Linked DNA regions of Homo sapiens: all the other regions are reported to be linked to region 1. Evidence: microRNA targets listed by miRTarBase, many of them from high-throughput screens and not tested one by one. Region 1 holds a microRNA gene; each other region holds the end of a gene's coding sequence.

Region 1 (3,133 bases):
AAGAACAAGCATGTATTGAGCAGTTATGTATGCAAGCCTTGTGCTAGGCACTGGAAATGAGAGATGAATAACCATGATTCCTGCCCTCTCGGAGCTCACAGACTAATGGAAGAGCCGATTTACAGAAAGAACACAGTGCAACAAGTTCCCCAACAGGGTAAGCACACGTGCTGAGGCTGTCTAACCCCGGAGCCTCAGACTCTTTGAGATGCAAAGGAATAAACAATAATTCCCAGAAAAGGTGACACTCAAATGGAGACCTGTCAATCATTTTTATTAGGCATTTTTGCTGGTTACAAAAGTAATAAATACTTTTTGCAGGAGATTTGGAAAGCACAAGGGTGTCAGAAAAAGAAAACGTCAATCATTATTTTACCATTAGAGGCAACCACTAATACATTCTGAAGCATTTCTCTTTCCATCTATGTACTTAACATCAATGAGTTCATCATGTCTATACATTTGATAGGCTCCCCAGTTTACTTAACATTGAAACATAAGCACTTTTCCATCAAGCTCAGTCCAAATGAGTGACCCCTGGATCTTTGATCTGGGGGACCAAGTCCAGGAGCCTGGAAGCCAGGGCTGGCCCAGAGGAGATATGACAAGCTGGGTTTTGGTGAGCAGGTTGAGTTGGCAGTGCTGTGGAGCATTCCACCCGGGGAGGAACACTGAAGATGCTGGAGAGCTGGGTGTGGCACTCAGGAGACAATTCAGGCCTAGAGGGTCCTCAGGTGGTGGTTGACGCCATGGGGATGGATGAGATCCCTCAGGGAGGGTGTGCAGGGTGAGAAGAGAGATGACTAGGGTAAGGTCCCTGCCCTCTAGAAGCTCACAGTCTAGTTGTGTTCATGTGCAAGTCATTTACCCCCAGCTAGATTGTAAGCTCCTTGAGGGCAGTTACCATTTCACACACAGCAGTCCCTCGCCAACCATGGGGGTTAGGTTTCTGAAAACCCCTGGGGCAGGAGAAGTCAGGCTTCAGGAATTTAGGACCTTATTGGGGAAAAAATAGGGTTAGGGGAATGAAGTCACCAGTGAACTTGTAAAATTATTATATTTTTACATAATGAGAAATGACAATGACAACATATTCAAAACACTGAATATCAGTGACACAAATTATCAACATATTCTTCAATTAACAACATTTTACAACTTATTTTCATGTACCATCTATCCCTTTAGTAGAGCTTGCCCCTTCACAGCTACAACAATATGCTTGTAAATTCACTTTTGCATTGCTGGAAAAAATACACTTGCTAAGAGTCCTTTTCTTATGTGTGGTTTCCCATCCAATTATTCAATGCATTTTGGTTTTTATAACTCCAGGCTACTGACACCTGTCTCTTGGTCCCACCCACAAGTGCAAGCACACACCTACATCCTAACAGGTAGGAGTGTGTTTCTGAGGTCTGATCCACCCCCTCCCACTCTCCTCTCTTCCCCAATTTTACTACAAACACCTCTCCTCTGCAGCCATTTCACCTACTTCCCTCTTCCCCAACCTCTGGGCAGATTTCATCAGTTCCCCCATAGGAATGAGCAAAGACTCCTGACCTTGGGATTCTCCAAGGCTTCTGACAAAGTATGCAAACATGAAGTTGTCAATATTAGAATTTGGTGTCTTTCTTTGGTAGACACTAGCATATCATTCACTCACTAGCTCATAGTAGGTACTCAATAAATTCTTGTTGAACTGAGCAATTTCCAAAGTAAAGGATGTGGACTTTTTTTTCTCTTTCCCCATTCACTGCTCCAAATGAATATTAAACCTTCACACAACATAAATATTGAAATATTTGTAGGCACATTTTATTTTCCCTTCTGGCAGGTCATGATGACAAGAGGCAGCTAATAGATGCAATCTATCTGCATTCACGAAGGCAGTTTTGAGTTCCACATGACATGCTGTCAATAGAGTCAAAAGATATGGCCCTTTAGTGAAGGAATTCTCCATATTTTCCAGCTCAGACCACTTGGATAAAGGAAAACACCTACTAACCAACGATTCTCCCATGCACATTTATGACAAAAAGGTTGTCGCCATGACTAAATGGGAGGACTAGCACTGTTTTTCATGAGATATCAACAAAACCATGTCTTTTAAATGAAACAATAATCAGTTACATTTATACAGCACTTTACATTTTACAAATGCTTTCAGGTACATTTTTATCTCACTTTTTCTTCACAGCAACTCTGCGAGGTAGTCAGAGAAGGCACTGATAGTTCCATTTTGCAGATGAAGAAACTGAGGCTTACTCTAAGGAAGGGACCAAAAGGGGCAACTCACTAGTCAAATTTGATACCCTTTCCATCTCCCATCACTGTTCTGTTGCCAGTTGGGTTACAATGAAAAACACAAAACTAAATTGCAATGCTGTTCCACTGTCATGTAATTGCCAGTGCCCAAGAGGTAGCCCACCCCTCGACACTCACATTCTCCCATTCCTCCCACCCCCAGTTGTCTTCCCTCAACCACTATCCACTCCACAAGTCAGTACCCAGACTGGCACATGAAGAATCTGAGTCAGTACCAGAAATGGCATTCAGCACTTCATGCATAGAAGCAAAGCTATGAGGCCAAAAAATCCGGGGGGTTGAGGGGGGTGGTGGGGGTGGTTCACCAGTCTTATCTCATTTAATCCTCTGCAAAATACTCACAATGATCACCCTTTCAAAGATGCAGAAACTGAGGCTCATCATGTGTATTAGCTTGGCCATGGTCACATGCCCAGAGAATGACAGTCAGCATTTGAACCCAGCTTCAGTTCCTGGACAGCAGGGCAGTCCCAAGAAAGCACTTCACTGGCTCAGAGCCACATGTGTTCCATTTCAGCCTCCCAGCTCAGAAGGACCTTGACCCTCCGCTGAAGCTGCTGCCCTCATGGCAAAGCTTCTTACAAAGGGTCCTCATCTGGACTAAAGCTGGATCACCTGACATAATAATTAAGCCCCAAACAGCCCCAAATCCTTTGTGGAAAAGAAAATCTGCTTTTTAAATGAATTCACACAGACATTTTGGTTTCAATTGCAAAGAACCTAAAATTTCCAAACAAGGAAGTGGGGATTCAGTCCACTTATTCATTTCACAGGATCTTTAACCAAATGGCAAAGGGGAAAAAGCTCA
Region 2 (3,031 bases), not on the chromosome of region 1:
ACGCTGAAAATACTCCAAGTCTGGCCCAGCCACCAGGCCCCGGCGCGGCATGGCTCTTGCTCTGTCGGTCACTGGATCTCTTGGTTACTCCTTTGCTCCTCAGCACGTACTCACTACTACTACGACCTCCGTCGCGTCCGGGAGCCGAGGGGAGAGCGTTTATCCGCTGACATGGAAACCATTGTCCTTTTCCGGCCACCGTCCACTGAGATAAATATCAGGGGCGGGGTTTGGACTGCACGTGTTCACGGGAAACGTAGTATGAGTCCCGCGTGGGGCATATAAGGATCAAGTAATTGAGTTGCGCCGCTTTCAGGAGTTGCGGGGTGGGGCAGAGAACGAATACGCTCCGTTTTAATTCAGTGGCCTGGGCTACATGGGATATTTAGGACAGACTATCTCTCTGAGACAGAAAAACAAGGGAGGAGGCAGTATGAAAGAATGTATTCTCGCTAAATTCCAGTTTCTAAAGGATGTGTAAGAAACCAGAGGTAAAGGTCTCGCGATATCTTAAGACATCCGGCGTAGTACGCTTCAGTGAGCCACAGCGCTAGAGAAGTAGGAGAAGCTCGCGAGATCTGTGCCGTTGCCGAGGAGACTAGGAGGGGGAGGAGAGGGGATCTCGCGAAAGGAAAGAGGTCGGGAGCGCTCGCGAGATCTCGGACCACCCAACCTGAAAGGTGCTTAGGAAGTTGAAAGGCCCAGAGGAGGCCTCCGGGCAAATGGCCGGAGCTGGACCGACCATGCTGCTACGAGAAGAGAATGGCTGTTGCAGTCGGCGTCAGAGCAGCTCCAGTGCTGGGGTTAGCACGGGCTCTGGTTCTGGGACTGAGGGGCAGTCAAGCAGCAAGATGGAGGGGGTGGGGAACTGCAGCTCCCGGCAGCCTCTGGGCTTTGTGTGAGTGCCCCGCGGGCTGCCGGGAGCTGTGGTTCCGCGGGCGGGCAGCCTGGGCTGCGCGGTCTGAGCGCTTGTTACACCCCGCGCAGGATTCGGACGGAGAGCGCGAGGACTCGGCGGCTGAGCGCGCCCGACAGCAGCTAGAGGCGCTGCTCAACAAGACTATGCGCATTCGCATGACAGATGGACGGACACTGGTCGGCTGCTTCCTCTGCACTGACCGTGACTGCAATGTCATCCTGGGCTCGGCGCAGGAGTTCCTCAAGCCGTCGGGTCAGTGCCCGGGGAATGCACACCCGCCTGGTAATGTGGCGGAACCTTACGCAAGGCATTTCCCCTTAAGGGCCTGGCTGCAACCCTTGTTTTCTGGGGCTCGTTTTCGTGGCTCAGAGGGGCGGGACTGATTCTGGCCTACTTTCCTGATGCTCTGATCCTTCTTTCCAGATTCCTTCTCTGCCGGGGAGCCCCGTGTGCTGGGCCTGGCCATGGTACCCGGACACCACATCGTTTCCATTGAGGTGCAGAGGGAGAGTCTGACCGGGCCTCCGTATCTCTGACCACGATGGCGCTTACCTTTCAGACTTCATTAAACTTATGACCGAATGGGCCTGTGTCTGTGTGTAGCTGGGATGCCGGTGCAGGATAGCACACCCCATCCCTAGAGGAAAGGGCTCATCTGAAGTCGGGAGCACCCTCAACCCTCCTCTCCCAACCAAGATGTCCAGGGGTGCCAAAGGTTCTCTCAAGTTCAGGGGTAGAGATGGGGGGCAGGGCTGAATGACGGACCAACAGGCCCCAGGGTGGGCCCCTGCATCTTCCCTCCCACGGCTGCTGCTCCAGAATTGTGGCGGGAGGGGGTGTCATCCTGCTCCGGAAGGCCCATTGTTTCCCACCCCGGCCTGGCAACACCGAGTTCCTCTAAGCTGGGGTCAGAGAACGGGCTCAGGTCCCCAAGGGGAGCAGCGGCAGGCGGCCGAGGCTGGGCCCCTCCACTCTATTGAGGGGGAGGTGCCTGGGGTCAGGAACAGATCTCTGAGGTCTGGCCAGGAAGAACGGACAAAAGCGATAAGGCCAGGGGGCTCAAGGATGCTCCTCTCTGCTCATTTGTAGCCCTGGCACATGTTTCCTGTTCCTCGGCACAGGGCAGGGGTGATAGTACTTGTGCCACGCCTCTGTTCGCAGAGCGCGTTCAGTTCGTTAAATCTTTATTGATGCGTGGACACTCCTTCCCCTCCAGCCCCGCCCCCCAGCCCCAGAAATACTAGAGAAGCTGCACCATAAAACGAGGGCACGAGATTGTTGTCCCATTCACGACGGAGCTGAGGGGGAGGTGTGCAGGTTCCAGCCTAGATGTTCAGGATTGAGATGTGGGTCGTGAAAGGAAAGTGGGTTTTCCGGGATGTGGGGGCTTTTCTCAGCACTGGGTCCACTGACGCTGCTGCTCCCAAGGGGATGCTAGGACTCCGCTCAGGCAGGGGTGGGGGCAGGGCAGGTCGGAAGATGCCGGGCTTCAAGTCCTTGGGCCGAATAAGAGGGAGGGCAGCCGTCAGGGTTGTTCTTGACTCGAGGGTCATTAGACCCAGACCTTTCCTGATGTGGGAACGGCCTGGGACCCTGGTGAGGCCCGGATTTGCCGCGGCTGCGGGGCGCGCCGACGCCGATAAAGGGCTCGGCTGTAGGGCACGAGGCAATCGGCTAGGCGGAGGCGCAGGCAGAGGCGGCGGTAGCTGGCCAGAGCAAGCACGAGCAGCGGCACGAGGAGCAGGAATCCGGTGACCAGTAGGGCCGTGAAACCGGGGTCCCGCAGGTGCGCGGTGCAAGGGGGTGCCTGGGAGCGCAGGAACTGTGGGAGAAGAGGCGTCAGGCCCAAGCCGACCAGGCGATACTGTGCACGGGGTGGAAACAGCCCAGGCGGGTTGAAGTTGTGGCCCATAGACCCCACCGCCAGCATCACCACACACCAACACTCACACTCACACGCACACCCCGGGGCGCACGCTCACCTGAGAGTGGCAGAGGAAGCCGAAGCCCAGCATGGTGACAGCGGGTAGCAAGATGGTCCCTAGCACCAGCACCAGCAGGAGAAGATTGAAGGCAGCCACCAGCAGATTCTGGGCTGTTACAAGAACAGCG
Region 3 (3,133 bases), not on the chromosome of region 1:
CATAATAGAGGGAGAATCAAAGAATCATTAGTACTAAGAAATGGGAAATGACAGCAGCGTTTTAAAAGAGTGGCAAGGTACTAAAGGTAGAAACACGATGCAAACTGCATACTCAAACCATAGCTGCCCCAGAATTCCCTTACAAGGGGAGTGAGATTGGATTACTCGGGAGGAAACCCTGTAAGCATTTGTGCGGTCATGTGCTTTGAGCTCTTCAAGATGCACTACAGTCTTTGGGTATAAAAGAATGCCACTCCCGAATCAACTTAAAAAGAACAGATCTTCAGCCTGGGAGGGGGCAGGGGATGGCTGCAATTCAAACAGTTCTATAAACATCTCTGGGCACATGAGGACTGTTGAGTGAAGCATTTTCTTGGCAGCTGTCAGCAAAATCGCCATCTGAGACACAGAGAAAGAGAAAGAGAAAGCAGGGACCACCTTCAGGCCCTTGTGATTTGGGAACAGGAAGCACCAGGTGGAAGCAGCACAGACGCGCTACTAACCCTACCTACGAACCCTACCTACGAACCCTACCTACGAACCCTACCTACTAGCCCTACCTACTAGCCCTACCTACTAGCCCTACCTACTAGCCCTACCTACTAACCCTACCTACTAGCCCTACCTACTAGCCCTACCTACTAGCCCTACCTACGAACCCTACCTACTAACCCTACCTACGAACCCTACCTACGAACCCTACCTACGAACCCTACCTACGAACCCTACCTACTAGCCCTACCTACTAGCCCTACCTACTAACCCTACCTACTAGCCCTACCTACGAACCCTACCTACGAACCCTACCTACTAGCCCTACCTACTAACCCTACCTACGAACCCTACCTACTAGCCCTACCTACTAACCCTACCTACTAGCCCTACCTACTAGCCCTACCTACTAACCCTACCTACTAGCCCTACCTACGAACCCTACCTACGAACCCTACCTACTAGCCCTACCTACTAACCCTACCTACGAACCCTACCTAACCCTACCTACGAACCCTACCTACGAACCCTACCTACTAACCCTACCTACTAGCCCTACCTACGAACCCTACCTACGAACCCTACCTACGAACCCTACCTACTAACCCTACCTACTAGCCCTACCTACTAACCCTACCTACCAGCCCTACCTACGAACCCTACCTACGAACCCTACCTACTAGCCCTACCTACTAGCCCTACCTACTAACCCTACCTACTAGCCCTACCTACGAACCCTACCGCGCTTTCCGGAAGCAAAGGCTTCAGGTACCACTGAGGAGCTCGATCTCTAAGAGCAAACACAAATGTGGTCCAAAGGCAGGTGATCACAGCACAGGCCCTGGGACGTCTACAGTGTGCAGGCAGCCACTAGGGCTGACCCGACCGGGCAAGAGGGCTGCTCGGTCCCTCCCCCGCCCTCCTGATCCCTGCACGGGGCACACATGGCCTCCACACAGCTCTCCAGTCACGCAGCACCCACACAGTGCCTTCAGAGCGGAGCTGAGACGGCACAACCAGGATCTCCATGCCTACCACGCACACAGTTGACAGCCGCGTGGGGTTTGGCATGAAAAACACGGCCTCTGCTGCACACAGAAACACGTGTTGCATGTCCTTATCGTGGAGGCCATCCCCTATGCAACTTCTGGACAGATTCTCAAATAACCTGCTTTTCCCATAAAAAGCTGAAAAAATAAGGGCCTGTACCAGATAGAGCAGGCTTTAAAATCAGGAATTAAACAAAATGTAAAAGGCAAACAAATCCCATATTCTGATTTGCTTCTGTGAAGATTCCTTCATTACTCAAACTAAGTTTCCACTCACCCCGTCCCCCCAGCACCCCCACCGTCATGCACACATGCACACACACAGCACATGCACACACACACACGCATGAGTCCACAATTCCCATGTACAAAGAAGCAGGACTCCTACATGCCACACGCCACCCTGAAGTGGATGCGAGAGCTGCTGCTTAGCTACTAATAAAACCCCATGGACAGTGTCAAGTGGCAAATGCGACTTGCTGGTTCCAAGACGGCCTCCTAGTGGCTGGAACTGTCTGGGCTCTGAGGACAATGAGCCACCAGAGGGCACAGAGGAGATGGCCTACACTGGGCTGGGAGCTGACTGCAGGTGAGAGGGGCGACGCACGGAAGGAAACGGGAAGAACCCCCCCACCCAAGTTCACATACAGAAAAATCCTGCTCTAAAAAGTATCAAAAAGATTTGAAAAGGAGGAAAGAGAAAGTAATGTTTAACGATGGCAGCATTTTCCTGGAGTCACCAGGAGTCCCTGAGAGCCCCTCCTGAGCCCCCGGCCCCACTGCAGGACAGTGGGTGGTGTGGGTGTGTCTGGCCCTGGGACAAGGTACTCCGCAGGCAACCTCTGAATCCTCAGAGGATAAGGACCTCAAGGGCTGGCCCTAAGTCCACAGACCATCTTGACTGGCGGGAAGCATGGGGGCCGTGAGGCGGCGTGCGGGCCATGAGGCAGCTTGGGGGAAGCGAGCTGGCAGCTTCCGTCCCAGGTGAGGAGGGGCCATCTCTGGAGGATGTCACAGGAATTCATTCACTAATGGACAATGCGGAGTTCGTTGGAAAAATTTTTTGCATCAATATCTGAGACCACGTCAATCCTTTAATTGGTACAGAAACTACTTTTCTTTCAAGAGAGCCCTTGCGCTCTGGTTGGATTTTGTGCACAACGTATACAAAATCTATGGCTATTGAGTTAAGTTAGGATCAGAGTTAAAACTACCTGCCAAGGTAGTTTTGGGATCAAACGACTACGTTTACCATCTGAGAGCTATTTGCTATCTAGAGGTGAGAGGAGTCTGTACAATGTCGCCGCTGGGTGGGCGGGTGCAGCTGGCTGTCCGAGGAGGGGCGGCCGTCCCCTCTGCACACTAGGTGCAGGCAGCGCGGCACTACCTGGAGATCATGGAGCTGGAGTGGGACTGGCTGGAGGAGGTGGTGGCGGCACTCAGCTGGGAGAAGCCGCTGTGGCTGGACTCCAGGCTCGTCATGGAACCTCTGTAATGGCACAGGGAGGGGCGAGGCGTGAGGACCACCCTGCCAACCACCCGCCGGCCCACACTGCCTGCTGGACTTCGTGGCCCACCCTGTTCTCTGCTCA

The links. The annotated mature microRNA hsa-miR-708-5p reads AAGGAGCUUACAAUCUAGCUGGG and lies in region 1 at 870-892, opposite strand. An mRNA with a match to its seed (bases 2 to 7 or 8) in the 3' UTR can be bound and repressed. Matches are read on the target gene's strand: a 7mer-m8 pairs with bases 2 to 8, a 7mer-A1 pairs with bases 2 to 7 and ends in A, and an 8mer does both.
Region 2: miRTarBase lists TMEM88 as a target of hsa-miR-708-5p. The part of its 3' UTR that is shown has no 7-base or 8-base seed match.
Region 3: the mRNA of SEC14L1 is a reported target of hsa-miR-708-5p. Seed matches in the 3' UTR shown: 7mer-m8 at 1,270-1,276.

What each region holds. Positions count from the first base shown.
Region 1 is chr11:79,401,208-79,404,340 of GRCh38, forward strand. MIR708 (microRNA 708) reads right to left here and starts at 902; the gene lies at 815-902. The region is part of intron 1 of TENM4 (teneurin transmembrane protein 4); the gene reads right to left.
Region 2 is chr17:7,855,155-7,858,185 of GRCh38, reverse strand. TMEM88 (transmembrane protein 88) reads right to left here. Exons shown (of 2, transcript NM_203411.2): 1 at 2,902-3,031; 2 at 2,087-2,741. The coding sequence ends at 2,472. It overlaps NAA38 (N-alpha-acetyltransferase 38, NatC auxiliary subunit), which reads left to right and starts at 627. Exons shown (of 3, transcript NM_001320925.4): 1 at 627-803; 2 at 988-1,171; 3 at 1,343-1,501. The coding sequence starts at 723. The coding sequence ends at 1,455. CYB5D1 (cytochrome b5 domain containing 1) reads right to left here and starts at 183. Exons shown (of 4, transcript NM_144607.6): 1 at 1-183. The coding sequence starts at 51. RefSeq lists enhancers at 1-67, 1-92, 421-715, 443-812, 68-930 and 2 more.
Region 3 is chr17:77,213,815-77,216,947 of GRCh38, reverse strand. It overlaps SEC14L1 (SEC14 like lipid binding 1), which reads right to left. Exons shown (of 17, transcript NM_001143998.2): 17 at 1-3,030. The coding sequence ends at 2,925. Among named protein-coding and RNA genes, the nearest start is that of LACAT1, 38 kb to the left of the region's middle.